Linked DNA regions of Homo sapiens: region 1 is linked to region 2. A link means that fine-mapping ties the variant in region 2 to the expression of a gene that starts in the linked region. Tissue or cell type: blood mononuclear cells. Region 2 holds a variant in brackets; the other region holds the start of a gene. All regions are shown on one strand. Distances are from middle to middle.

Evidence for each region.
Region 1: it holds the start of CHMP4B, and the variant in region 2 is fine-mapped to the expression of CHMP4B in blood mononuclear cells (TOPMed, PIP above 0.99). The same link has a PIP of 0.9 or more in monocytes and whole blood.

Annotation. Positions count from the first base shown.
Region 1 is chr20:33,801,483-33,814,714 of GRCh38, reverse strand. CHMP4B (charged multivesicular body protein 4B) reads right to left here and starts at 3,367. Exons shown (of 5, transcript NM_176812.5): 1 at 3,057-3,367. The coding sequence starts at 3,246. ZNF341-AS1 (ZNF341 antisense RNA 1) reads left to right here and starts at 3,616. Exons shown (of 4, transcript NR_110623.1): 1 at 3,616-3,675. RefSeq lists enhancers at 2,074-2,143, 1,972-2,812, 3,579-3,658, 3,398-3,692 and a silencer at 3,239-3,518.
Region 2 is chr20:33,777,713-33,793,562 of GRCh38, reverse strand. It overlaps ZNF341 (zinc finger protein 341), which reads right to left. Exons shown (of 15, transcript NM_001282933.2): 11 at 12,176-12,272; 12 at 9,699-9,831; 13 at 4,589-4,700; 14 at 3,975-4,045; 15 at 1,294-2,575. The coding sequence ends at 2,046. It overlaps ZNF341-AS1 (ZNF341 antisense RNA 1), which reads left to right. Exons shown (of 4, transcript NR_110623.1): 4 at 5,786-6,190. Among named protein-coding and RNA genes, the nearest start is that of ZNF341-AS1, 25 kb to the left of the region's middle. RefSeq lists enhancers at 1,126-1,420, 14,206-14,500, 14,536-14,825 and silencers at 7,837-7,886, 14,916-14,965. The variant T/C (reference allele first, on the strand shown) is at 7,843.

The sequences.
Region 1 (13,232 bases), 22 kb before region 2:
CCACTGCACTTCGGCCTGGATGTCAGAGCAAGACCCTGTTGCTTAAAGTGAATGAATAAATAAAAATAAAGGACAGCTAAGGGCTCCTCACTACTTCCAGGTCAAGGTCCAAAGACTACAGGCCACTCTCAGTGTTATCTCCTGTCCCACCCACAGACTCCAGAGGCGACACTGTCACTGCCTCCCAAACACACCCAACTCCTTGCTGACCCACCTCACGTTCTCCTTCCTCTGCCAAGTCTTCTTTATCCTTCCCCCCAAACAGGTGCCGCCTCCTCTGCAGCCTCAGCCCATGTACACACTCATGTTTCTGCACTGTTATAATCATTTCCTGCTCTCTCACACGCACATACACTCCCACCCCACACTTCCAATTCTGAGTTCCTGAAGGGCTGACACAGTGTATTTTCATCTCTGACTCTCAAGGTCCCAGCATAGTGGCAGGTGAATAAGCAGACTAACTGAATGGTAATGTGGTAGTGTTCACCTCCCCACACTAAGACCTTCCTCCTAGAGGATGCTAAAAAGAAGGGTAGGTTACAGTAGCTCCCATCCTCTCAAGCAAACTCAGGGAGACAGCCTGCCTTCAGCAAGTCTGACAACTGAGATTGGTCCTCCACAGTTGGCTGGCGAGCTCTCCTGCAGCCCCTTGAAAGTCAATTCGATCGCCAAAACTGCAGAAACGGCTGGGTGCGATGGCTCATGCCCATAATCCCAGCACTTTGGGAGGCCGAGGCAGGCAGATCATGAGGTCAGGTGTTCAAGACCAGCCTGACCAACATGGTGAAACCCCATCTCTACTAAAAATACAAAAATTAGCCAGGCATGGTGGCGTGCACCTGTAATCCCAGCTACTCAGGAGGCTGACGCAGGAGAATCATTTGAACCCAGAAGGCAGAGGTTGCAGTGAGCTGAGATCGCACCACTGCACTCCAGCCTGGGCAACAGAGCGAGACTCCGTTTCAAAAACAAACAAACAAACAAACAAACAAAAAAACAAACTCCAGAAACTAAGCTAGCTCCAGACCAAAAGATCAGAGGAAAATGGTAAACTGACACCCTCCTCCTGCATTCCAAAATGCAGAAAGCTAAAAACACTGATTCTGATGACCATAAACAGAGGATCTGGACTGAGGGAGAGTCATCAGAGGAAAAAGCTAGAGACAGCAAAATATAACCCTGTTCCCATCTCCACAACTAAGCTGGAGTCCAAGCCACAAATGGACCACTGCAGCTGCCTCCTCACTGTTCTCCCTGCTCCCACCCGCATCCCCCACCCACTCTCCAAAGAGCAGCCAGATGATGTTTTAAAAACTCTGTCAATAAGGACACGTTCCAACAAAATACTCTCCAAAAACTTTCCATCCACTTGGAATAAAATTCAAACTCTTCACCAACAGGTTCAAAGTCCAAGCCCCGCCCCCTTTATTCCATACCACTCTCCCTCCAAGCACTACATTCTGGACACAAGGGTCTCTCTCTTCGGTTTCTTACAACCTGCTAACCTCCGAGCCTTTTCCCATGCTGCTTTCCACGCCCAGAAGGCTCCTCCCCCTTTTTTTTTTTTTTTTACAGAGCTGGTTCCTTCTCCAGACTCAGTTCAAACTTTACCTTTTCAAAGACGCCTTCCCTGACCATTCTATCCAAAGTGGCATCCCTCCCACTCCACCACTCCCTATCAGACCATCTTTTTGTGTGTTTAGTACTTATCACCCCCGGACAATATTTTCTTCATTTATTTTCCTGTTTCTGTCTTCTCTCCCATTAGGGTTGAGGCCGTGTTTTGTTCACCCCTATGAATACAGCGCATGCAGCAGGCACTAAAAAGAATTTCCAGAATATCTGTTGACTATCAGCAGAGAAGCATCCTCCAGATAGGCTATTTTGTTCTCCTATTAGAATGGAGAAAACATCGATTTAGCCCCTACTATGTGCTGAGCACTGTAAATCCATGATTTTCCTTTCAGAAAGGTAAATGAGCTCAAGGTCGCACTGCTAGTCACTAGCAGACTTCTGAGTGAATTACCTCAATCCTAAACCCCTCTCAAGGGGAAGGGATGTCGTTCTGTGATTCACTCTCACATGGCCATAACAAGAAAAAGCAAACATTTCTAAACTGCTTTACAGTTTTAAAGCATTTTCACATTCATCTCACTTAAGAAAAACACAAAGCACTTGGAATGCCCAGAAAGCCATACGACAACAGGAAGTAAAGTAAGCAGTGCCTCAAGATTCAATACTGGGGCCCTGAATCCTAGTAGTGGGGACTGGGGAGCAGTCGGGAGTCTCTATTTCTGGTTCAGACGGATGGGGAAGCGGTGAGTCATGGGGTGAAGGCTTGCGCCACGGGAAACTTTGGTAAGGTCAAGCTACGAGGCAACAAAAAGTGAATCACAACGCTGGAAAACACCTTAGGCCTCAACAGAGGCCGAACTCTGGCTGACGGATGGGGAAACTGAGGCCTCAAAGGGAAAGCAACTTGCTCAAGTTCACTCAGCAAGTGAATAGAGCAGGAATCGGGGGTCTCATCTCCCCCAGTCCCCTTTTCTCTCCAGCAAGGAGGCTTTTCAACGAGAATTCTGAGACAAGAGGACAGGGGAGAGGCCAAGGGGCAGCTCACAGATTCCACCGAGGAGTCGGGAGAGGGCACAGGTAGGACCAGGAAGCACAGAAATGCTAGGATGGGGGCAGAAATGAGCCGAGGAGGAGGCAGGGGCAGTAGCTAGGCAGGTGGGTGAGGCGAGAAGGAAAAGGCGGAAGAGAAAGGGACAGAGTGAGGGCGGAGGAAAGTGCTGTGAGATTGGGGTCTGAAGGGACCTGGCGGGGTGGAGAGAGGCTGAGGGGAGAGGGCAGAATAAGTCTGACGATGGAAAAGTCCAGGGATCGGGGAGACATTGAAGGGAGTCGGGGAGGGGGTCCCAGACCCGGCAAGAAGTCTGACCCGGAGAGTTCCAGGGTCAGACCAGACCCCGAGGCGAGTCTGATGAAGGTGAAGTCCGGGCCCGGGGAGCCTGGGGGGAGCCCGTGGCAAGTCTGAAGGGGCCGGGCAGCCTCACCGCGCTTGTTTTTGGTGCCGTGCTTCTTGGCGGCCGTCAGCTCCTGCTCGATTTTCTTCTCCAGGAACTCCTGTTTCTTGCTTAACATCTCTTCCGTGTCCCGCAGCCGCTGGATGGCCTCCTGGGGGGTCGGGCCGCCCTTGCCGGCCTTACCCCCTCCAGCCCCGAACAGCTTCCCGAACACCGACATGGTTGCTGCTCGCCGCGCCGGCCTTCGCCGCCCGCTCCGGCTCGGCTCGGCTCGGCTCGGCTCGGGTCGGCTCCGGCGCCCGCTCCCAGTCCCGCCGCTCCCTGCCGCCGCAGGCCTCTCCTCCGCCTCCGCCTCCGCCCCGCAGCTGGGCCCGGCCGCGCCACCTCCCACAGGCCCCCACGCCCGGCCCGGCAGGCGTCAGGGCAACGCGCCACTGACTACAACTCCCAGTGGGCAACGCGCCGGCCGCGCCTCAAATCTAATAGGGGGAAGCGTGCTGCATGCCGGGAAGCTATAGTCTTCCGGCTTCAGGCGCTCCCCGGCGCGTCTTTTGCTGTAGCTGGGGTCAAAGGGCGTGTGGCATTCTGGGAAATGTAGTCTCCTTGGCCTGCGCTCTGTAGGAGTGGCAGAACAGTAAGAGAAATGACAGTAAGTGTGCAACACTGCTCAAAAATTTATTGCTAGTATGGGATACTGCCATGCTTGAACTTCACATGTATATTCATGTGAAGTTGTCTTAAAAGCGTGAAGGCAACAGTTGTTTCCAATTTCAACCTGTCAATTCTGTGGTCACAGAAGCAAAGCAGTATCTTCTCCAGTTAAGTACGGTAGTGTCCCCCTTATCTGAGATTTTACTTTGAGTAGTTTCACTTGGCCAGCTAAGGTCTGACAGTATTAAATAGAAAATTCCAGAAATAAACAGTTCATAAGTTTTTAATTTCCATTGGCCTAATGAAATCTCGTGCTATCCTGTTCCATCCTACCTGCAATGTGAATCATCCCTTTGTCCAACATACCTCTACCATCTGTTAGTTACTTACCAGCTTAGGAGTTATCAGATGGACTGCCACGGTGTTGCAGTGCTTTGGTTCGAGTAACCCTCATTTTACTATATAATGGCCCCAAAGTGCAAGAGTAGTAATGCTGGCAGTTTGGATATGCCAAAATGAAGCTGTAAAGTGCTTCCTTTAAATGTAAATGTGGAAGTTCTGAGCTTAAGAAAAAAAATCGTATGCTGAGCTTACTGAGGTCTGCAGTAAGAACGAATCTTCTAGCCCTAGAATTGTGAAAGAGGAAAAAGAAATTCATGCTGGTTTTGCTGTCGTACCTCAAACTGCAAAAGTTACAGCCACAGTGTGTGATAAGTGCTTAGTTAAGATAGAAAAGGCATTAAGTTGTATCCTTACTTACAGGGGAAAAAAAGAAAATAAATTTTTTTACAAAAGAAAAGAAAAAGCATTAAGCTTATACGTGGAAGACACGAACAAAAAATGTGTTCCAACTGACAGCAACCTGTTACCCCCCAGAAAGCATTGAGCCTGTATAAAGGCTTCAGCAAGGAATCTCCTAAAACCAGTGGCACCAAGCCACTTACTGAAAGTAATGGATGGTTGCACTGACTTAGGAATAGGTTTAGACTGCAAAATATAAAAATTACTGGATGGGCTGGGCACAGTGGCTCACACCTGTAATCTCAGCACTCTGGCAGGCCTAGGCGGATGGATCACCTGAGGTCAGGAGTTTGAGACCAGCCTGGCCAACGTGGTGAAACCCCATCTCTACTAAAAATAAAAAATAAAAATAAAAAAATTAGCTGGGCGTGGTGGCGCACGCCTGTAATCCCAGCTACTTGGGAGGCTGAGGCAGGAGAATCACTTGAACCTGAGAGGCAGAGGTTGCAGTAAACTGAAATCGTGCTATTGCACTCCAGCCTGGGCGAAAAGAGCAAAATTCTGTCTCAAAAAGAAAAAAAAAATTACTGGAGCCGGGCGCGGTGGCTCACGCCTGTAATCCCAGCACTTTGGGAGGCCAAGGCGGGCGGATCACGAGGTCAGGAGATCGAGACCATCCTGGCTAACAAGGTGAAACCCCGTCTCTACTAAAAATACAAAAAATTAGCCTGGCATGGTGGCGGCGGGTGCCTGTAGTCCCAGCTACTCTGGAGGCTGAGGCAGGAGAATGGCGTGAACCCAGGAGGCAGAGCTTGCAGTGAGCCGAGATTGCGCCACTGCACTCCAGCCTGGGCGACAGAGAGAGACTCCGTGTCAAAAAAAAAAAAAAAAAAAAGGCCGGGCGCGGTGGCTCATGCCTGTAATCCCAGGACTTTGGGAGGCCGAGGCGGGCGGATCACGAGGTCAGGAGATCAAGATCATCCTGGCTAACACGGTGAAACTCCATCTCTACTAAAAATACAAAAAAATTAGCCAGGCATGGTGGCACGCGCCTGTAGTCCCAGCTACTCAGGAGGCTGAGGCAGGAGAATGGCGTGAACCCGGGAGGCAGAGCTGGCAGTGAGCCGAGATGGCACCACTGCACTCCAGCCTGGGCAACAGAGCGAGGCTCCGTGTCAAAAAAAAAAAAAAAAGTTACTGGAGGTTGGGTGCGGTGACTCACGCCTGTAATTCCAGCATTTTGGGAGACCAAGGCAGGTGGATCGCTTGAGCCCAGGAGTTGAGGCCAGCCTGGGCAACATGGCGAAACCCCATCCCTACAAAAAATACAAAATTTAGCTGGGCATGATGGCACAGGCCTATAGTCCCAGCTGCTCAGGAGACTGAGCCATGAAGATCATCTGAGCCTGGGAGTTTGAAACTGCAGTGAGCTGTGATCTCACCACTGCACTCGAGCCTGGGTGACAGAGTGAGACCCTGTCACAAATAAATAAATAAATATTACTGGAGAGGCTACAGCAAGACAAGTTGGTGGAGAAGGATTTGGGGACATGCTTGATGAAGAAGTGGAAGATCATATTGAAGGCCACTGGGAAGTGTTAACAAATGTGGAATTGGAAGAACTTGTCAAGTCATCTACAAAGAAAGAGGAAAATGAAGGAGAAACAGAAACAGAACCAGCAATATGGGTGTTATCAAAATTTGCCGAGTGTTTCAAATTGCACAGACATTAAAGGACAAAATTATGGAATTCAATCCTCAGATAGAACACAGCATTAAAACCACTCGTGTGGTCACCAAAGGATTACAACTTCTGCAGCCACACTTCTATGAATTAAAAAGAAAGAGGCCAGGCATAGTGGCTAACACCTGTAATCCTAGGACTTTGGGAGGCCGAGGTGGGCAGATCACTTGAGGCCCGGAGTTTGAGACCAGCCCGGCCATCGTGGTGAAATCCTGTCTCTACTAAAAATACAAAAATTCACCAGGCATGGTGGCGTGCACCTGTAATCCTAGCTACTTGGGAGGCTAAGGCAGAAGAATTGCTTGAACCCAAGAGGCAGAGGTTGCAGTGAGCCGAGATTGCGCCACTGCACTCCAGCCTGGGCGACAGAGACTCTGTCTCAAAAAAAAAAAAAAAAAAAAGAATTAAATAGAAAGAGATGGCCAGGTGCAGCGGCTCACGCTTGTAATCTCAGCACTTTGGGATGCTGAGGTAGGCGGGTCACTCGAGCTCACAGGTTTGAGACCAGCCTGGGCAACATGGTGAAACCTCATCTCTACAAAAAATGCAAAAAACTAGCTGGGTGTGGTGGCGCACACCTGCAGTCCCAGCTACTCAGGAGGCTGAGGTGGGAGGATCACCTGAGCCCAGGAGGTTGAGGCTGCAGTGAGCCATGATCACACCACTGCACTGAAACCTGGGCAACAGACTGAGATGCTATCTCAGAAAAAGAAAGAAAGAGACAACTTCCAGTAATAATGTTCTTCCAAAAGTTTTTGGCAAAAACGCAATTATCCAAGGACCCCCAATCATTGGTTGACATCGTCTGATCCTGATATCCAACCACTGACATCGTCATAGCTCAATGATCCAGGATCACCCAAAGCAGATGGTCCTCCTGACATCTCAGATGGTCAGTAGTAGCCTAACACTACCTCATAATGCCTGTGTCATTCACCTTACTTCATCTCATCACATAGGGATTTTGACATCACGCATAATCTCAAGAAGAAGGGTGAATACAGTACAGTAAGACATTTTGAGAGAGAGACCACATTCACAAAACTGAATACAGTATATTGTTATAATTGTCCCATTTTATTAATAGTTGTTATTAATCTCTTACTGTGCCTAATTTATAAATTAAACTTTATCATAGATGTATATATATAGAAAAAACACAGTATATATAAAGTTCAGTACTATTTATGTTTTCAGGCATCCACTTGCAGGTACACCTGAGGATAAAGGAGAACTATTGTATTTGAAAAACAACAATAATTAACATTGATGCACATTCTGTGATTGCACCATCGATGCACATTCTGGCATTGTGCAAAGTGCTGTACATATAATATCACATTTGGCCGGGGGCAGTGGCTCACGCCTGTAATCCCAGCACTTTGGGAGGCCAAGGCAGATGGATCATGAGGTCAGGAGTTCGAGACCAGCCTGGCCAACATGGTGAAACCCCGTCTCTACTAAAAATACAAAAATTAGCCAGGCATGGTGGTACGTGCCTGTAATCCCAGTGACTTGGGAGGCTGAGGCAGGAGAATCACTTGAACCCCAGAGGCAGAGTTTGCAGTGAGCTGAGATTGCGCCACTGCACTCCAGCCTGGGTGACAGAGCAAGACTTGGTCTCCAAAAAAAAAGAAAAAAAAACACATTTAATTATCATAAGCAGCCTAGGACAGATAATACTGTTCCTATTTTATAGGGGAGTAAACCAAGATTCAGAGAAATCAAGTGACTGACTGACTAGACCTGTCTTTGCAAATGTTCTTCCCTCTACCTGGAATGCCTTTCTACTCTTCATTCACCTAACAGATCCTTTGAAACCTAGCAGAAGCTAAGGGCCTTGGCACTGAACTTTGATAGCAAAGGTTCAAAACCCAGCCTTGACTACTTACTTGGGCAAGTTATTTCCCCTACTTTCTGTGCCTCCCTTCCTGCAAGTATAAACTGGAGATGATCGTAACAGGACCACCTGAAGCTTATGTGAGATATAGAATGTAAAGTACTTGCTGAGCATAGACTTGGCACCTAGCGGATGCTCAAAAATGTGTATTTTATTCTTAGGTATTCTGTCATCTTTATAGGCAATAAGAATTGAACCAGACTCAGAACTTTCAAAAGTGGCAGAAGCGTTGAGGACTTTTTTGCCTCTGCAATAAACAGACGCAGCTAATTGTGGTACCACATTTCATTGTTTTTCCATTGTCTTTGGTGTCAAGCATCACTTCTCTAGACTCTTAGTGGTGGATAAAAAGGGGGAAAAAATCACTTCTCCATCCATTAGCAGTGAGGCTGCTGTTAGTAGCCAGTAGTTGCCCCAAGCCTACCATTCTAATTTGCTGCTTCCAATCTTTTGCATGTGTTAACCTTGCATGAAAACAAAGAATAGCCGGCGCGGTGGCTCACGCCTGTAATCCCAGCACTTTGGGAGGCCGAGATGGGCGGATCACGAGGTCAGGAGATCGAGACCGTCCTGGCTAACACAGTGAAACCCCGTCTCTACTAAAAATACAAAAAAATTAGCCGGGCGTGGTTGCAGGCTCCTGTAGTCCCAGCTACTCGGGAGGCTGAGGCAGGAGAATGGCCTGAACCCAGGAGGCGGAGCTTGCAGTGAGCCGAGATCTCGCCACCGCACTACAGCCTGGGTGACAGAGCGAGACTCCGTCTCAAAAAAAAAACAAAAACAAAAACAAAGAATAAACCAATTCTAAATGAGGAGCTGAAATGCTCTCCCATGAAGAAAAATACAGCTTCTCAAAGGTATTTTTTATTCCTTCCTGTACTTTTCAAATATGTGAAGTTGCTCAGGATCAGAGTTTCAAATAAATGAGAGCTTAGCTGGACTTTTCCTCTATTAGTTTATATGTGAGTCTTATCTCCTCCCTCAGACTATGATTTACATTTGGACAAAAGCCATGAGTTGGATGTTGTTGTTGTTTTAATCAGCCACAACCTCCAACCCTGCACATACAGGCAGCCATTCCCAGAGGATGGTAGAGTTCATTTCACCCAATTTTGTGGTTGGAATAAGTTTTTCAAATGTGAGAGACATGCTAGAACTGTCAAGAATTCACAGGAGTATTGTTAAACATTAAGTCACATTTGTGTTTGTTCCGTAATTGAGACACTGCAATGTTTTAGCAAAGTAAAAGAGAAAAACAAAGAGGCTTCAGTCAAGCCACCTCATGGGTGCAGCAGCCCCTCCACATCTAAGCAGTCTGCCTCATCACCTCTTATCTAAGTCAAGTTGCTCCCAGGTACATAGGTAGCAAAACACTTGCTGGGTTGGAGCCATTACCCAAAGGATATATGAACAGGAAGATGCTGTGGACCTCACCACCATCAGTTTCATACAGCTGTGTGGTAAACTGAGGGTGATAACAGAGCCCCTCATGTTCTAACTCTGGGAGCCCAGAAAAATATCTTGGGGATATGACAGCAGAAGCCTCAGATTTAATCTTGAGTACTGTATTAGTCTGTTTTCATGCTTCTGATAAAGGCATACCCAAGACTGGGCAATCTACAAAAAGAAAGAGGTTTAATTGGACTTATAGTTCCATATGGCAGGGGAAGCCTCACAATCATGGCAGAAGTCAAGGAAGAGTAAGTCCCGTCTTACATGGATAGCAACGGGCAAAGAGAGAATGAGAGCCAAGAGAAAGGGGTTTCTCCTTATAAAACCACCAGATCTCATGACACTTATTCACTACCACAAGAACAGTATGGGAGAAACCGCTGCCATGATTTAATTATCTCGTACCAGGTCCCTCCCACAACAATGGGAATTATGGGAGATATAATTCAAGATGAGATTTGAGTGGGGACACAGCCAAACTATATCAAGTACCAACTACAAGCAATTAGTGTTGGCCACCTGGACCGCTGGGTTGAAAAGAATTTTGAGGCTGCATCAGAAGTTCTTGTAAAAAAAAGTGCCAAGATTGGCCCGGCATGGCGACTCACACCTGTAATCTCAGCACTTTGGGAGGCCAAGATGGGAAGATTGCTTGAACCCAGGAGTTTGAGACCAGCCTGGGCGACATAGGGACACTCAGTCTCAAGAAATAATTAAAAATTACCTGGGCATGGTGGCACACACCTATGGTCCCAGTTATTCGAGAGGCTGAGGCAGGAGGATCACTTGAGCCCAGGAGGTTGAGGCTGCAGTGAGCTGTGAACATGCAACTGCCCTCCAGCCTGAGTGACAGAGTGAGACACTGTCTCAAAAAAAGAAAAAAAAGTGCTCAAGATGGATTTGTGATGTCTACCCAGGGTATGGGATGGGAAGTGGTGACACATGGGCAAAGTAGCTGCCATCCTGGCTGAGAATTCAGCTGCCATAAATAGAGATTCACAGAGTGGACTGGCTCAATACTGGAGAGCCCTGGGCTTTGCTGGCCTGTATTTTTCTGGTCTCTCAGACAAATGCACAGCCTTTTCAAACTTTGACCAACTCGTATTAACTTATTCAAAACTGTGTGAAAAAGAATGAGCCACTGATACATGCAAGAATTTGGATGACTCACAGATATTATGCTGAGTGAAAGAAACCAGATACAAAAGCTTGTATGACTCCATATATACGAAGCTCAAAAACAGGCAAAACTAATCCATGGTGTTAGGAATCAGAATAATGGTTACCTCCAGGGAGGTACAGACCAGGAAGAGGACCCTTACAAGGTGCTAACAGGTTCAATAGCAGGATCCAGAGGTGTTCACATGGCTGTATACAAATTAATCAGTTTTTATACTTAAGACGATTGCCCTTTATGTATCTTATGTACTTTATTAAACATGTTATATTACAATTTAAAACAACATCTCCAGGCTGGGCATGGTGGCTCATGCCTGTAATCCTAGCACTTTGAGAGGCCGAGGTGGATGGATCACTTGAGCTCAGGAGTTCGAGACCAGCCTGGCCAACATGGTGAAACCCCAAGTCTACTTAAAAAATGCGAAAATGAGCCAAGCATGGTGGTGCACACCTGTAATCCCAGCCACTCAGGAGGCTGAGGCAGGAGAATCACTTGAACCCAGGAAGTGGAGGTTGCAGTGAGCCGAGATCATGCCACTGCACTCCAGCCGGGGCGACATAGCAAGACTCCATCTCAAAAATAAGTAAATAAGTAAATAAATAAATAAATAAATAAATAACATCTCTAGCTGGGCATGGCAGCTCATGCCTGTAATCTCAGCACTTTGGGAAACCAAGGTGGGAGGATTGCTTGAGGCCACAGTTCAACACCATCCTGGGCAACATAGTGAGATCTCTTCTCTAGAAAAAAATTTAAAAATTAGCCAGGCATGGTGGTGCAAGCCTGTAGTCTGGGCTACTTGGGAAGCTGAGGTGGAAAAATTGCTTGGGCCCAGGAGTTCAAAGCTACAGTGAGCTATGATGACGCCAATGCACTCCAGCCTGGGCAACAGAGGGAGACCCTGTCTCAAAAAAGAAACGAACAACAACAACAAAAATACACACACAAAGTATCTCTAATAAGAGCAGCAACAGAAGAATAGTTTTTATTTGCAAAGTGCCTTTGCACACAAAAATCCCATCTTATCTCCATCATCCCTCTAAGCCCCATGAAGTAAGCATTACTATCCACCTCCATTTTACAGTTGAGGAAACTGAGGCCCAAAGAAGTAGGAATTGACTAAAGTCACATGGTTAAAGATACCCAGCCATATATTTGTAACCTTCTTTGAAAACATTAATTATGAAATGAGGCCGGGCACGGTGGCTCACGCCTGTAATCCCAGCACTTTGGGAGGCCGAGATGGGCGGATCACCTGACGACAGGAGTTTGAGACCAGCCTCAACATGGAGAAACCCCATCTCTACTAAAAATACAAAATTAGCCAGGCGTGGTGGTGCATGCCTGTAATCCCAGCTACTCGGGAGGCTGAGGCAGGAGAATTGCTTGAACCTGGGAGGCGGAGGTTGCGGTGAGCCGAGATCACACCATCACACTCCAGTCTGGGCAACAAGAGTGAAACTCTGTCCCAAAAAATCAAAAAAATTATGAAATAAAACCTTAATTATGAAACTTGGTCTCACATAATTATACCAAATTAAATACAGAGGACTTCGCTGATTTTTAGTTGTAAAAAAGAGTTCATCCAACATTCTCTCCTGATTAAACAAAAAACAAACAAACAAAAAAACAAAACCTGAAACACTCAGCCAACTAGGAAGAGGAGAGAACTTCTCAACCTGGTAAAAGGCATCTGTGCAAAACCCACAGCTAACATCACACTTAATGGTGAAGACAAAGGCCGAAAGCTTTCCCCCTAAGATCAGGAATAAGATAAGGATGCCTACTCTCATCACTTCCAATCAACATTGTACTGAAAGTTCTTGCCAGGGCAATTAAGCAAGAAAAATAAATAAAAGGCATCCAGATTGGAAAAGCAGAGGTAAAACTATTTCTATTTGTAGATGACATGATCTCATATAGAGAAAAACCTAAAGAATACACAGAAAGCTATTAGAACTAAAATGAGTTCAGCAAAGTTCAACAATATCAACACACAAAAATCAGTTGTATTTCTGTACATTAGCAACGAGCAATATGAAAATGATATTAAGAATCATTTCCATTTACAATAGCATCAAAAATAATAAAACATTTAGCAATAAATTTAACCACGGAAAGGAAAGGCTTGTCCTCTGAAAAGTACCAAACCTTGTTGAAAGAAATCAAGGAAGACATAAATAAATGGAAACACATTCCATGTCCATGGATTAGAAGACTTAATTGTTAAGACAGCAACACTCTCCAAATTGCTCAACAGATTCAATACAAGTCTTTCAAAATCTGAGCTGCATTTTTTGCAGAAATGGACAAGTTTATCCCACACCTCATATGGAATCGCAAGAGACCCTGAATAGTCAAAACAATATTCAAAAAGAAAAATAAAGTTGAAAGATTCGCATGTCCTGATTTCAAAACTTACTGCAAAGCTACAATAAAGAAGTTTATCGATCAATTGAATAGAGTCAAGAGTACAAAAATAAACCTATACATCTATAGTCAATTGATTTTCAACAAGTGTGCTAAGACCATTAAATG
Region 2 (15,850 bases):
AACATCCGCCGGCCCCAGAACATAGCAGGCCTGGCACTGTCCCACCCCAAGGTGTTTGCACGCGCCCTGCTCTCACCCAGCACACCTTCCCCTATCCATCCACCCATCAAAGCACCCCGGGCCAAGGCCCAGCTCCAGGGGCATCCCCTCTGACTTCCTGTCCCCACCAGTCCCCCTCGGGCCTTTGTGCAGGCCGGTACACTTACACACCTCACCCCCATCAACTCTGTCCCTCCTGCCGCGTCACACCCTTCCTGAGGATGTGGGAAGCTGGGCCTGGCTCTGAGTTCCAGCCCTGAGATCCAACACAGATGCCTGAGGGACCTGCCAGCCTTCAAAACAATTCAGTCATCAAATGGAGTCCAACAGCCCAGAAGGGTGGCTGTGAAGATAAACAGGAAAACACTAGTCAAGGCCCTTTTCTCCTTCCCGCCTCCTCATGAGCCCGGTCCACCTCCCACCGGGACCAGCTGAGAGGTAGGAGGAAGCACTGGACGCGGTGACATTGATGGCCTCCAGATGCCGACACGAGAGGGATTTCTGATCTTGTTTACAACGGATTTGGAGGTGGCTAACTATCCTGAATTCCCACAAGTGAGTACAAACCCCGACCCCCATGGGGTGTTGTCCTGGACTGTTTTCTGTGGATGGGTGTTCCCAATTTCCTTTCTTTTTTTTCGTTTCTTTTCTTTTTTTTTAAATCTTTGAGACAGGGTCTTGCTCAGTTGCCCAGGCTGGAATGCAGTGGCACAATCTCAGCTCACTGCAGCCTCAACCTCCTGGGCTCAAGTGATCCTCCCACATTAGCCTCCAGCATATCTGGGACTGCAGGCACCCACCACCATGCCCAGCTAATTTTTTTTTTTTTTTTTTGAGACAGGGTCTCACTCTGTCTCCCACACTGGAGTGCAGTGGCACGATCTCAGCTCACTGCAACCTCTGTCTCCTGGGTTCAAGTGATTCTCCCGCCTCAGCCTCCCAAGTAGCTGGGAATACAGGTGTGCACCACCACACCCGGTTAATTTTTGTATTTTTACTAGAGACGAGGTTTTGCCATGTTGGCCAGACTGGTCTCAAACTCCTGATCTCAGGTGATCAGCCCACCTTGGCCTCCCAAAGTGCTGGGATTACAGGCATGAGCTGCCGTGCCCAGCCTTGCTTCCCTTATCATCTCTCCAGGGCTCCCTGTGTGAGGGGCCTGGGACCCCTCAGCCACCACAAGCTTCAGAGGGGGAGTGCTGCCACCTAGGGGCAAAGAAGGAAACTGCCACAGCTTGGCCCAGGCCACCCGGACACGTTATGACAAAAACATTTATTGAGCACTTTCTGCGTGCCGGGCACCATGCCAAGCCCCTGGCGCACTTCATCATACTGGATCCCCAGGACAACCCTATGAGGTAGTAGTATCGTAAGCCCCATTGTACAGATGAGGAACACGGGGCTCAGAGAAGTGAAGTGACTTGCCCAAGGTCACACAGCAAGTGCATGGCAACTCTTGGATTTGAAGCCAGATCTGTCTCATAGCTGCAGTCTAGCCGTGACACCTGAGTGCCTCCTAAAAGCTACATCACAGAGCTGTCTGAGGATGCTGTGGGGAACCGTCTGTGAAAAGGTGCAACACGTAAACTCCGAAGAGTTTATGGCAGGCCTCCTGAAGAACAGCAGACTAGAGGCTACCCAGAGGCAGCCTGGAGACAGAGTGGGGAGGAATGCCCTGTCTCCTCTCCCAGGGGCCCCGACCACCAGCCTAGACCAGCGGGACTCTGGGCTGCTCAGGCTTCAGCCATCTCTCTCCTGCCACCATGGCTCTGCCCAGAAACCGTGGATGGCCCTGCCCCCAACCCTAGAATGTTGCAGGGCTTTCCGGCAGGAGAGGGGCACAGGAGGGCGACCATGGGCTGAGGTTTCTGAATGACATTCAGCAGGATTTCTGCCAATGGCTCGATGGCTCGCTTCCACTGGTAAGGATCACCGGTCTGCCCCCAGGGGCCCTGGACCCAAACAGGAGCATCAGGCCTGCCCAGGAAACAGACACCTCAGGTCCGTCACTCGGAGGCCTGGATGTAGACGGGCACAGCGAGCATGGCACATGGGCCCTCGGCCCCAGCCTGCAGCTCCGCCAGAGCCAGGTTGGAGCCCAGCCCCTCAGCGTGTCCAGGTACCACCAGCTCAGTTTCCGCGCCCACCGCACCACCCACAACGATGGACAGCACCGCGTCCGGCTCTGCGAAGGGCGGCTTGCCGGGGACAGCCTCGGGCACCAGCCCAGCCCCTGTGTCCTTCAGCTCCTCCAGCCCCAGCGGGTCAGGCAAGGGGGTCAGCACCTTGCGCCCACCACTGCCGCAACTGCGGGGGGCTGCCCTCCTCTGGGGGGGCCGCCGGGTTTGCAGGTCCTTGTCCTTTTGGGGGCCGAGACGACAGCGGTGATCTTTGAGGTATTTGTGGCGGGAAAAGCCCTTGGCGCAGCCAGCACAGCGGAACTTGTAGTTGCCCGTGTGGGCGCGCTGATGCTCGGCGAGGTGGGCACGGCGGCTGAAGGACTTGCTGCACAGGGCGCATTTGTGGAGCTTCATGCCTGGAGGGCAAGGGAAAGTCAGTGAGAAGCATCCAGACCTTCACCCCGCAACAGTGCCCTGCGCTGGGAATAAAATCCAGGCTCTTTCCCCACCAGCACCTGTGTGATCTGGCCCCAGCTCTCTCCACCCTCGTCGTCTGCCTTCTTCCAGCCACTCTCTGCGCCAGCCACACTCGCTCTCCTCAGAGATGCCACGCTGGCTCCTCCCTCTGCGCCTTTGTACTTGCCATTCTCCTCTGCCTGGAACAGCTGCTCACTCTCTGCACCTTGGCTCGCTTTGCCAGGTCATCTCAGGCTCAGGGAGGGGCCGTGACGCCTGAGGCCACCCACAGGAACATGGCAGCACTAAGACTCCAACCCAGCCCTGTGTGTCCAAGTCATTGACCTACTCTCCCAGTTTTCACACTTTCTTTAGTGACTGACTCCTTTCTGTAAACCTTCTCAAACAAGGGAGACTTTACCCCCCAGAGGACTCAGCAATGCCTAGAGACATTTTTGGTTGTCACAACTGTGGGGGGATGCCACTGACACCAGTAGATAGAAGCCAGGGATACTGCTAAAAATCCTACAGGGCACAGGACAGCCCCCAGGACAAAATTATCTACAGGATTACAGGCCAGGCGCCGGTGGCTCACACCTGTAATCCCAGCACCTTGGGAGGCCAAGGCGGGCAGATCACTTGAGGTCAGGAGTTCGACACCAGCCTAGCCAACATGGTGAAAACCCCATGTCTACTAAAAATACAAAAATTAGCTGGGTGTGGTGGCAGGCACCTGTAATCCCAACTACTTGGGAAGCTGAGGCAAGAGAATCGCTTGAACCTGGGAGGCAGAGGTTGCAATGAGCCAAGATCACACCACTGCACTCCACCTGGGTGACAGAGGGAGGCTCCGTCTCAAAAAAAAAAAAAAAAAATTATCTGGCCCAAATTGTCAATGGTGCCAGGGTTGAAGAACCTTGTTTTAGACCTCGGCTGGCATGTGGAAAGCCAGCCAGGCTGCTCTGAGGAGGCGCTGAGAAACTGAGGAGTGGCTTGGAGACCCCTGCCCTGCCCTATCAAAGAAGCTTCCTGGCCATGTCTTGGACCTGGCTGGAATCTGATTCCCTCCACACCTCGTCCACACCTCTATTACACTGGGCACTGCTCCAACTGAGTCATCTCTGCTCAGGTCAGCTTCCTCCTTGGACTGGGGGACTGTGTCTGATTCATCTCTGTTCACCCTTAAGTCCCTAACACAGGCCTGGCTCATAGCCCACATAAGTGAAAGTGCTGGCTGGAATGTGCCAGGCAGGGAAAACAAGCCTCACAGGATATGTCTGCTCTTTCTCTTCCTGGCGGGTCTATCCCAGTGAACTAGAGCTGAACCAGACCCTCTTAGCAGGCCCAAGAGCCACTTACCAGAGTGGGAGAGGATGTGGGCCTTCAGCTTGTCCGGCCGGTTGAACTCCTTACTGCAGCCTGTGTGCGTCCTAAAACCCAAAGCCACTGGTCAGGGGGAGCTCACCAAGCTTAGGATCCTCTTGCTGGCCCCTCCACTAGCCCTGGGCACAAGGGACAGCCTTGTCCACCCTAAGGGCTGGGCAAGGAGGTAGGGTGGGAAGTGAGGCAGGCAGGGCCCAGGACAGGATAAAAGGAGAGAGGCCTGGCCAGGCACAGTGGCTCACGCCTGTAATCTCAGCACTTTGGGAGGCCGAGGTGGATGGATCACTTGCGGTCAGGAGCTCGAGACCAGCCTAGGCAACATGGCGAAACTCCATCTCTACTAAATCTGTAATCTCAGCTACTTGGGAAGCCGAGGCAAGAGAATCGCTTGAACCCAGAAGGCAGAGGTTGCAGTGAGACAAGATCTTACCACTGCACTCCAGCCTGGATGACAGAGTGAGACTATGTCTCCAAAAAAAAAAAAAAGGAGAGGCCTGCCCTCAGGCCTGACATCTGTCCCACCCTCCCCAGCAGCACCCCTGGAGAATCTGTCCCGCTACCCACCCCCCTGCATGGCAGTCTCTACTCACGAGAAAGGGCATTTGTATTTCTTGAAGGGCTCGTGGATCAACATGTGTCTCTTCAGTTTGTCCTTGCGGTTGAACGCAGACTCGCACACTGAGCATTTGTAGGGCTTCTCACCTGCAGCAGACACAGACAGGGAGAGCCAGCACTCACCAGGAGTCGGCATCCAGGGCACAAGGGTCCCCGCTGGGCCCCTCAGGGGAGCAGCTCCTCTAGGGAGGTGGCCAGGGGAGAAAATAGCCTCTCTCATTCTTCAGTGGCTTTGTTTTGCCAGAGACAAGACAGGGCTATTTTGACAGGATGGTCAGGAGAGGCCTCTCTGATGAGGCCATGCATGAGGAGAGACCTCAGGTCATCAGGGAGATGGTCTGGGCAGCAGGGAAAGCAGGTACAAAGGCCCTGAGGCAGGAGTGCGTTTGGCGGTGCTGATGAACAACAGGGAGGCTGGTGTGGCCAGAGAACAAGGCAGAAGGTGAGGGCAGCGAGCCAGCCAGGTCCGCATGGGAGGACCTGGGAGGCAGAGCTAAGGACTTGGCTTTTATTTATTTATTTTTTTTGAGACAGAGCCTTGCTCTGTCACCCAGGCTGGAGTGCAGTGGCAAGATTTCAGGTGAGTCACTGCAACCTCTGCCTTCTGGGTTCAAGCAATCCTCCTACCTCAGCCTCCTGAGTAGATGGGATTACAGGTGTGTGCCACCACGCCCAGCTAATTTTTGTATTTTTAGTAGAGATGGGGGGTTTCACCATGTTGGCCAGGCTGGTCTCGAACTCCTGACCTCAAGTGATCCACCTGCCTTGGCCTCCCAAAGTGCTGGGATTACAGGCATGAGCCACCGCGCCCAGCCAGGACTTTGGCTTTTACTCTGAGCCAGAAGAGAAGCACCAGAAGGTCTGAACAGCAGAGGGATGGACTCTGATGTAAGCTTTTAACCAGCTCGAATGAGGGTGGAGGTGAGGATAACCAGGAAGTGGCCCAGGACAGCCATGTTGGGAAGGCACAGTCGGCAGCCCTTGCCACTGGACTGGCTGTGACTGTGAGAGGAGGAGAGGAGTCAAGGATGAGGCACGGCCTGAGAAGCAAGGTGGCCTCATGTCATTTCTGGCAATGCGGTCCACCCTGGGGGACGAGGAATCACACCTTATCTAACTGAATCCTTCCAAAAAACCAGGAGGCACTGACTCCCATCATCCCTGTTTCACAGATAAGAAAGAAGACTGAAGTTCAGAGAGGTGAAGGGACTGGCTCAGGGGCTACCCCTATGGTTGCGGGAGCTAAGATTCCAGCCCAGCAGCGTGATCCAGAGCCCATCTGAGCTACCCAGATCTTCCTGCTGTTAAACCCGTCCTGGGGCAGCTCTTGCCTGATGGGCTACCTGAGGAACCCACAGGAAATCAAGGGAGGTGCCTGCAAAGTTGCCGTGGGGTCACAGCCTGCCCTTTGGAAGGGGCTGTTTCTGGGCTGCTGTGACTTCCTGCCATTATTTCCTCTCTGTTCTCCCTCTGGAATGAATAAAGTACTTCTGAAAAACCATCAACCCAGTCGATACGGAAATGCTGGTCCCTACAATAGAATGCTCTGTGGTCATTAAAAAGATTAAAAAGGTCAATCTGTGTTTCCTGATCTGGAAAGATCTCCTGGACATACTGCTAGTGGGGAAAGAAAGCAGTAGAACAGCTTAACACAATCTCGTCTTTCTTAGAAAAAAATATAATCCCTACTGGATATGTAAGCTCCAACAAAAAAAAAAGAAAGAAAAAATACAACCTGCACACCCCAAAAAAGCCCTGGCCATGTGTCTCTGTAAATAAACTGAAGATGCAGGAAGAAAGATGGGGAGGTGTAGGGAAAGGACAGACCAAAGTGTCAGTGGCAACTACAACTTGAAGGGGAAATTTAACATTTTACTTTATGTACTCCTATATTGTTTCCATTTTTATAATAACCATGTATTATTTGTGTGGTTTTTTTTGTTTTGTTTTGTTTCGTTTTTTGTATTTTTTTTTTTTTTTTTGAAACAGAGTCTTGCTCTGTTGCCCAGGCTGGAGTGCAGTGGTTTGATCTTGGCTCACTGCAACCTCCATCTCCTGGGTTCAGGCAATTCTCCTGCCTCAGCCTCCTGAGTAGCTGGGATCACAGGTGCGTACCACCACACCCGGCTAATTTTTGTATTTTTAGTAGAGACGGGGTTTCATCACGTTGGCCAGGCTGGTCTCAAACTCTTGACCTAGGTGCTCCACCCACCTTCACCTTCCAAAGTGCTGAGATTACAGGCATGAGCCACCGCGCCTGGCAGCATGTATTACTTTTGAATAATAATTTTTAAAAGCCATAAAGAGCAATTTGGTAATATCAAACTTACAATGCATTACTTCTTTTCCCTTCTTTATTGTGGAGAAATATACATAACAGAAAATTGACCATCTTAAGCTTCTTTTAAGTGTATAGTTCAGTGGCATAAGTACATTTGCACCATCATGCAACCATCACCATCATCTGTCTCTAGAATTTTTTCATCATCCCAAACTGAAACTCAGTATTACACATGCATTTTAACCTAGCATTTCCACTCCTAAGAATATACACTACAGATACACTTCCAAAAGCTTGCCAAGGGACCCACACAGCATTGTGTGTACAAACTAATAGCTGAAATGTAATTTAACGGTTCATACATAGGCTGGGCGTGATGGCTCATGCCTGTAATCCCAGCACTTTGGGAGGCTGGGGCGGGGGGATCACTTGAGGTCAGGAGTTCGAGACCAGCCTGGCCAACATGGTGAAACCACATATCTACTAAAAATACAAAAATTAGCTGGGCGTGATGGTGCACACCTGTAATCCCAGCTACTTGGAAGGCTAAGGCAGGAGAATTGCTTGAACTCAGGCGGCAGAGGTTGCAGTGAACCAAGATCGTGCCATTCAGTCTCAAAAAAAAAAAAAAAAAAAAAAAAGGTTCATACATAGAGAACTGGCTAAATACAAGATGAAAAATTCATTGAGGAAGACTACTCAGATGTGAAAAAGAAGGTGCTGTTGGTAACAACTTCTGGGGGGGGCCCGGGGGAGGGGGACCCACAGAATTTAGCCTCCAGGGGAACTGTAAGCACACATTCCTTGGGGAACATCGCCAAGGTATATGATAAGGAAAAAAAGGCACATAAGTTATAGTATGTGCTCATTTTTGCAAACGTAAGCAAGCGTTTTATATATGTGTAAAATAAAACTAGAAGAATGCAGACTAGACCGCTAACAGTTACC[T/C]TTGGGGAAGAGAATTAGGAGTATTTTGCAAACTGCAAACCACAAGTTACACCCTGTTGGTGGTTATTTTAAGAATTAAAAATAGGCTGGGTGTGGTGGCTTGCATCTGTAATCCCAGCACTTTGAGAGGCCAAGGTGGGTGGGTAACCTGAGGCCAGGAGTTTGAGACCATCTTGGCCAACATGGTGAAACCCCGTCTCTACTGAAAATACAGAAATTAGCCAGGCATGTGGTGGGCGCCTGTAATCCCAGCTACTCGGGAGGCTGAGGCACGAGAATGGCTTGAACCTGGGAGGCGGAGGTTGTAGTGAGATCATACCATTGCACTCCAGCCTGGGTGACAGAGTGAGACCCTGTCTCAAAATAAAAATAAAAAATAAAAAAACTAAAATTGAAAAGGACAAAATAGAAAACACTGTTTTGTAAAACTTTTGTTGCAATACATCCTATGTGTGCTTCCTGGGTTGCAATATGAAATGTATTTTTTACCATAGGTCGTAGGAAAGAAAAAAAAGGAAAAACATTGGATTGTCCATCTGAAGTGAGAGGGAGTTTATTTTTTTATATATGCTTTTGTCCCGTCAAGGATTTTCCCTCAAGTTTTCTCAATCTTTAGATCCTTTTCAATTAAAAAGCAATTAAAAAATTTAACTAATAAAAAAATCTAAAGATTAATAGAAAAGAAAATGTCAGTGTGTTTCAACTGGGGAACCAAGGAGATGGCGTTTTGTTCAGGTTTGAGTGGGAACTTACAGTGAGAGCAGTGTCCCCACCACAGGGGGCAGAGTCAAGAGTCCCTCACACAGGCTGGGTGCAGTGCCTCACGCCTGTCATCCCAGCACTTTGGGAGGCCGAGGCAGGAGGATCACCTGAGGTCAGGAGTTCGAAACCAGCCTGGCCAACATGGCAAAACCCTGTTTCTACTAAAAATACAAAAAACTAGCTGGACATGGTGGTGGGAGCCTGTAATCCCAGCTACTCAGGAGGCTGAGGCAGGAGAATCACTTGAACCCGGGAGGCAGAGGTTGCAGTGAGCCAAGATCTGCCACCGCACTCCAGCCTGGGCAACAAGAGCGAGACTTTGTCTCAAAGAAAAAAAAAAAAAGAATAAAAAGTCCCTTCCACACAACCTCCAGGGGCTCTTCTCTGCTTTAGCGGTGGTGGGAATCCCTTGTTCATGAATTAAGGCAGGTGGATCAGGGGCCAGGAAGGAGAGAGGAAGGAGGAGCAAGGGGAGAGGCAGGAGGGCTGGAGGGAGACAGACAGCGACAGAGAGGAGGGGGAGGGGGCTGGAGGGAGAGGGGAGAGGACAGGGGAGGGAGGCTGGAGGGGGCTAGAAGGAGATGGGGAGAGGGAGGGGAAGGGAGGCTAGAGGGAGATGGGAAGGAGGAGGGAGAAGGGGGCTGCAGGGAGATGGGGAAGAAGAGGGAGATGGGGAGGGTGAGGGAGATGGGGGGGAGAGAGATGGAGAGAGGGAGGGAGATGGGGGAGGGGGAAGGAGATGGGGAGAGGGAGGGAGGTGAGGAGGCGGAGGGAGGGGGGAGGGAGAGGAGTAGGGAGAGGGAGAGGGGAAAGGAAATGGGGAAGAGGAGGGAGAAGGGTGCTGGAGGGAGATGGGGAGGAGGAAGGAGATGGGGAGGAGGAGGGAGATGGGGAGGAGGAGGGAGACGGGGGCTGAGAGAGATGAGGGGAGGGACTGAGTGAGATGGGGAGGGAGATGGAGAAGTGGAGGGAAAAGGGGCTGAGGGAGACAGGGAGAAGAGCCAGATGGGGATGGGAAGAGAGAGAAAGGCATGAGGAGAGGGGGAGGGGGAGGGGAGGGGCTGGGCTGGAGTTCTCAGGGGCAGGGTACCTACCCGAGTGGATGTGAGCATGCAGTTTGAGATAATGCTCCCGCCGGAAGAACTTCTTGCACACTTGGCACTTGAACCTGCCCCCGCTGCCGTGGGTGGGCAGATGACGCCGCAGGTAGCGTTCACAAGGAAACACCTGGGAGAGAAGAGGGGCCTTCAGGTCTGACTCACCGGGCCCCCCTCCCCTGGCCATCTTCTGAACTCAAAGGTTCCTCGTTTCCAGCCCCTATAGAGACACCTTCCTTTCTGGCTATCAGGGGCCAGGACCCAGAATGTCAGACTCAGCCCTTAGAACTTCATGGCTCCCCACAAGCCCGGACAAAACATGTCTGCCCTGAGCTTTTGCCCGGATGTTCTTCCCACCCAGAGGGCCTTTCTCTCTTTACTGACAAACTCTTACACATCCTTCAAGACCCAACTCGGGCGTCACTGCTCCTGTCAAGCCTTCCCTAGCTCCCTGGTGCTATGCCTGGCAAAGCCAATTCTGCCTTTGAATGTCCACCCACACTTTTAAGTCAGCATTTAACCCACTGAATGACAGCCCTTTGCTTACACAGGAGCTCCAAGTAGGCAGAGAGGGGCTTTCACTCCCCAGCACAGAGCCTGGGTCAAATGACTGACAAGTAAAAGAATTAATGGAAAATGAGCAAATTACTAAAGAAATCTATGGAAAGGTAATTTTTTACTTTTATTTATTTTATTTTATTTTATTTGAGATGCAGTTTCGCTCATATTGTCCAGGCTGGAGTGCAATGGTGCAATCTTGGCTCACTGCAACCTCTGCCTCCCAGGTTCAAGCGATTCTCCTGCCTCAGCCTCCTGAGTAGCTGGGATTACAGGTGCCTGCCACCACTCCCGGCTAATTTTTATTTTTAGTAGAGACAGGGTTTCTCCATGTTGGTTAGGCTGGTCTCTAACTCCTGACCTCAGGTGATCCACCCGCCTCAGCCTCCCGAAGTGCTGGGATTACAGGCGCCCACCACCACACCCAGCTAATTTTTGTATGAAAGGTAATTTTTTTAAAGCCAGAAAACACAGAAGTGAAAATCTCTTTCCAGTCCAGGCAAAAGAAGGGCATGTATTCACACATTCATTCATTTTGGTAGAGCGTTGGTCACGGGCACAGACCCAGCTGCCCCACTGCTTATTAGCCCCATCGTTTCCCAGCTAGGTGACCTTTCTGCCTTGGTTTCCCCACCTATAAAGGGGGATAGTAACAGTACACCTATCCTCTAGTCAATTCCAGTGAAATGCTCAGAACAGCATCTGGCATGTGGTTCTTGCTCAATTCATGGTATCTTTTACTCGGACCACAACTTCTAAAGCTTAAAATTAGGTTAGATAATAAGAAACATCCAGAATGAGGCCAAAATGAAACCAGGGCTGTCCTGGAAAATCTGCCACATATGGTTGTAAGAAAATGAGTAGAGTGAAGAAGCAAGTTAAACACACCAGGGAGACGTAATCAGCAAAATCCAGACTGCGGGGAACACCGCTGAACCAAATGGCCCAGTTTCTTCAACAAATAAATTCAGAGGAAAGAAAAAAGGGAGCAGTGGTCAGGGGTGGTGGTGGGGACCTGTAGATTAATAGAGGCTTTTGTTATGTCAATCAATTGCAATCTATGGACCTGATTCAAATGAACTTTACAAAATGATGAAGCTTTGAGACAACTAGAAATTGGAACACTTCCTGGATGTTTGATGTTATCAGGAACAGGCTTTAGTGAGGCTTTCAGAGTCACTGAAAAGAAGAATCCAGGCTGGGCATGATGGCTCATACCTGTAATCCCAACACTCTGGGAGTCTGAGGTGGGAGGATCACTTGAGGCCAAGAGTTTGAGACCAGCCTGGGTAACATAGTGAGCCCTATCTCTACAAAAAATTTAGGCTGGGTGCAGTGGCTCATGCGTGTAATCCCAGCACTTTGGGAGGTCAAGGTGGACAGGTCCCTTAAGCCCAGGAGTTTGAGACCAGCCTGGGCAACACGGTGAAACTCCATCTCTATAAAAAATACAAAAATTAGCTGGGCATGGTGGCACATGCCTATAGTCCCAGCTACTCAGGGGGCTGAGCCCAGGAGGTTGAGGCTGCGGTGAGCCATGATCAAACCACTGCACACTAGCCTGGTGACAGAGTAAGACCCTGTCTCAAAAAAAAAAAAAAATTAAAAAGAAGAGCCAATTGTAATAAGGATAATCTTACATCAGGAAGCTGGGAGGCTTCTGCTCAGACACTAGGCCTGGGACCAGGACAGCCCACCCAGCCTGGCTCCAGCAGCAGCCCCGACATGGCCACATCTGGAATGTGATGGATGAGATGGCCAGGCAGAGACACTGTGTCATCTGTGGAGCAGCCCCTGAGCCCTGCCTGCGTGTCCTATGGTGAGAGAGGAGAAGGAAAGGGTGAGGTGTGCACCCCACCCCACCTCCTTGCCCTTATTATAGCCTAGGCCCCAGAAAAGAGGACAGTGGCACCCACCTTCTGGCAGTGTGGGCAGGGGAAGTTGTGAGTGGCGGTCTGCAGGTGGTGCTCCAGGGCCTCAGGGGTGGAGTATTTGTTGACACATTTGACACACCTAAGTGGAAGGAGCAGGAGAGATGAGGGAGGAAACACAGCAGGCATAGGAAGCAGCGCCCCGGCCACCCCAGGGCCAACATTAGGAGGCAACATCCTACAGTTAATTCATTCCAAATCCATCCACTCTTCTCAATTGCCACTGCCTGTCCTCATCTGAGCGCCATCATCTCTTGTTCGGACTTGTGCAGTAGCCTCCTCGCTGGCCACCCTGCCCCTGCCTTGCCTCCTGTAGTCCATTCTCCACAGGGTGGCCAGGGGCACCTTTAAAAATGAAACAGGCTGAGCACAGTGGCTGGCTCACACCTGCAATCCCAATACTTTAGGAGGCCAAGGTGAGAGGATTGTTTGAGACCAGGAGTTCAAAATCAGCCTGGGCAACATGGCAAGACCCCTATCCCTATGAAAAATTTAAAAATTAGCTAGATGTGGTGGCTTCCCAGCTACTCAAGAGGCTAAGGCAGGAGGATCGCTTAAGCCCAGGGGTTTTGAAGTTACAGTGAGCCATGATTATGCCACTACACTCCAGCCTGGGTAACAGAAAGAGAACCTGTCTCTATTTAAATAAGAAAAAAAAAAAAAGGCCTGGTGTGGTGACTCACACCTGTAATCCCAGTACTTCGGGAGGCCGAGGCAGGCGCATCACCTGAGGTCAGGAGTTTGAGACCAGCCTGGCCAACATGATGAAACCCCGTCTCTCTACTAAAAATACAAAAATTAGCCAGGCGTGGTAGCGTGGACCTGTAATCCCAGCTACTCAGGAGACTGAGTCAGGAGAATCACTTAAACCCAGGAGGCGGAGGTTGCAGTGAGCCGAGATCGCACCACTGCACTCCAGCCTGGGCGGCAGAGTGAGACTCTGTCTCAAAAAAGAAACAAAAAAAAAAAGTAAGTCAGACCATGCCACACCATTGCTTAACCCACCTCCCACCTTGGCCTACAAGGCCCTGTGGTCTGACCCACTCCCACCTCTCAGACCTCATCCTTCTCCTTTCTCCACCTCACTCACTCTGCTCTGGCCACCCTGGCCTCCTTGACCTACCTTGAACACACCAGGCTCATTCCCACCTCAGGGCCTTGGCACTGGCTGTTCCTGTTCCCCGGAACACTCTTCCCCAAGTCTTCCCCAGGCAGTGCCTTCTCATCCTTCATATCTCAGCTCAAATGTCACCTCCCCAAAGAGGCCCTCCTGGCCACCCTGTCTCAAGTTGCCCCCCACGATGCACTCCCAGTCACTCCCTATTACATCACTCAGTTTTATTTTCTTCTTACCACTTCTTACCTGGAATTATTTATTATTTGCTTACTTGGTTATTGTCTGTCTCCTCCACTAGCAAGTGGTCCCTGTTCCAGATACCACATCTTGCCCATTCACAAGCTGCTCCCAGCACCAGTGAGAACTTGTTACATTAAAGAGTCAGACAGATGGGGATCCAAGCCCAGCGCCTTCCCATTTCTGACCTGCTGGGCCTCCTCATTCAAAATATGGGGTGTGAGTCCCAAACAGACCTGCCTGTCACTCATTCTTACAATTGTCACATGGCTGGATGCAGTGCCTCATGCCTGTAATCCCAGCACTTTGGGAGGCTGAGGTGGGCAGATCACCTGAGGTCAGGAGTTCAAGACCAGCCTGGCCAATACGGTGAAACCCTGTCTCTACTAAAAATACAAACATTAGCCAGGCGTGGTGGCACCTGCCTGTAACCCCAGCTACTCAGGAGGCTGAGGCAGGAGAATCACTTGAACCTGGGAGATGCAGGATGCAGTGAGCTGAGATCACGCTACTGCACTCCAGCCTGGGCGACACAGTGAGACTCCATCTCAAAAAAAAAAAAAAAAAAAAGGGAGATTGTCACAGAGTCTGACATAGTTTGTATCTGTGTCCCCACCTAAATCTCATGTTGAACTATAATCCCCAGTGCTGGAGGTGAGTTCTGGTGGGAGGTGATTGGATCATGGGGGTGGATTTCTCATGAATGGTTTAGGACCATCCCCTTGGTGCAGTCCTCAGGATAGTGAGTGAGTTCTCATGAGATCTAGCTGTTTAAAAGTGTATGGCGCCTCCCTCTCTCTCTATCTGGCTCCTGCTCTGGCCATGTGACATGTCTACTTCCCCTTCTCCTCCTGCCATGAGTAAAAGCCTCCTGAGGCCTCCCCAGTGGCAGATCTGCTAGCTCAGACACTATGCTTCCTGTACAGCCTGCTGAACCGTGAGTCAAATAAGCCTCTTTTCTTATAAATTACCCAGTCTCAGGTATTTCTTTATAGCAGTGCAAGAATGGCCTAATACAGAGTCAAAAAACACAACTGTGCCAAACAGCTCATAAACATGTCCTCACAACAGCAGTCTCAGGCCACCAACCACTCTGAAGGGAGAAAAGACACCACCATCTCCCCATCATGAAAACATGTGCCAGCTAAGGAAGAAAGGGTATTATCAGACAAAAAAAGAAAAGAAAAAAGAAAACATTTGCCAGCATATTGACCTATTTACAATGAGTTATCAGTGAGGAATGTCACAGGTAGGTGAACAATTCAAAGCAAAAACCAAAAGGCAGGCTGTGTAGAGTACTGCCTGTGGGAAACCCCAGGCAGGCTGCACCTGCGAAGGGCCCAGGGGAGCCCCATAGACCGCACTCTGAAACTACACACTAGCCAGGCGCACTCTGAAACCACACACTAGCCAGGCGCGGTGGCTCATGCCTGTAATCCCAGCACTTTGGGAGGCCGAGGTGGGCGGATCACTTAAGGTCAGGAGTTCGAGACCAACCTGGCCAACATGGAGAAATGCCGTCTTTACTAAAAATACAAAAATTAGCCAGGTGTGGTGGCTCACACCTGTAATCCCAGCTACTCAGGAGGCTGAGGCACAAGAATCACTTGAACCCAGGAGGGCAGAGGTTGCGGTGAGCCAAGATCATGCCACTGCACTTCAGCCTGGGTGACGGAGAGAGACTCTGTCTCAAAAAAAATAAAAAAAGAAAAGAAAAAGAAAGAAGCCACATACTAAATGCCTCCAGGCAGCAAGAAAGGGAAGGTGGGGTGGGAGCAGAGGTACCAGGAGGGCAGAGACTTAACTAGCTGGTGAGATGGGAAAGGACAGAATCTCACATGCTTCAGGGGCTGGGTTTGGGGGAGACATAGATTTGTGTCAGAGATTGTTTACCAATAGCCAGGAAAATTAAAATCTCCTGCCAGAAACAGCACCTGAATTAAGTCATCCAAGGTAACATCACCAGTAATAGAGCAAATCAACATCACATGCCTCCTGATATGACACACGGAGGAGGACACAGTATTTGTTGTGACATTCCTGACAAAAGTGCATGACCTGAATTTAATCATAGGGTAAAATCAGGCAAACCCAAACTGAGGACATTCTACAGAATAACCTGTCTATACTCTTCAGAAATATCAAGGTCTCGAAGACAAAGACAGAAGGAGGAACTGTTCCAGCTTATAGGACACAAGAGAGACGAGAGAGACATGACAACTGAATTCAACATGTGATTCTGGTTCAAAAAAACCTTTTTTTTCTTTTTCTCTAAAGCATGTTATTGGAACAATTGGAAAATTCTG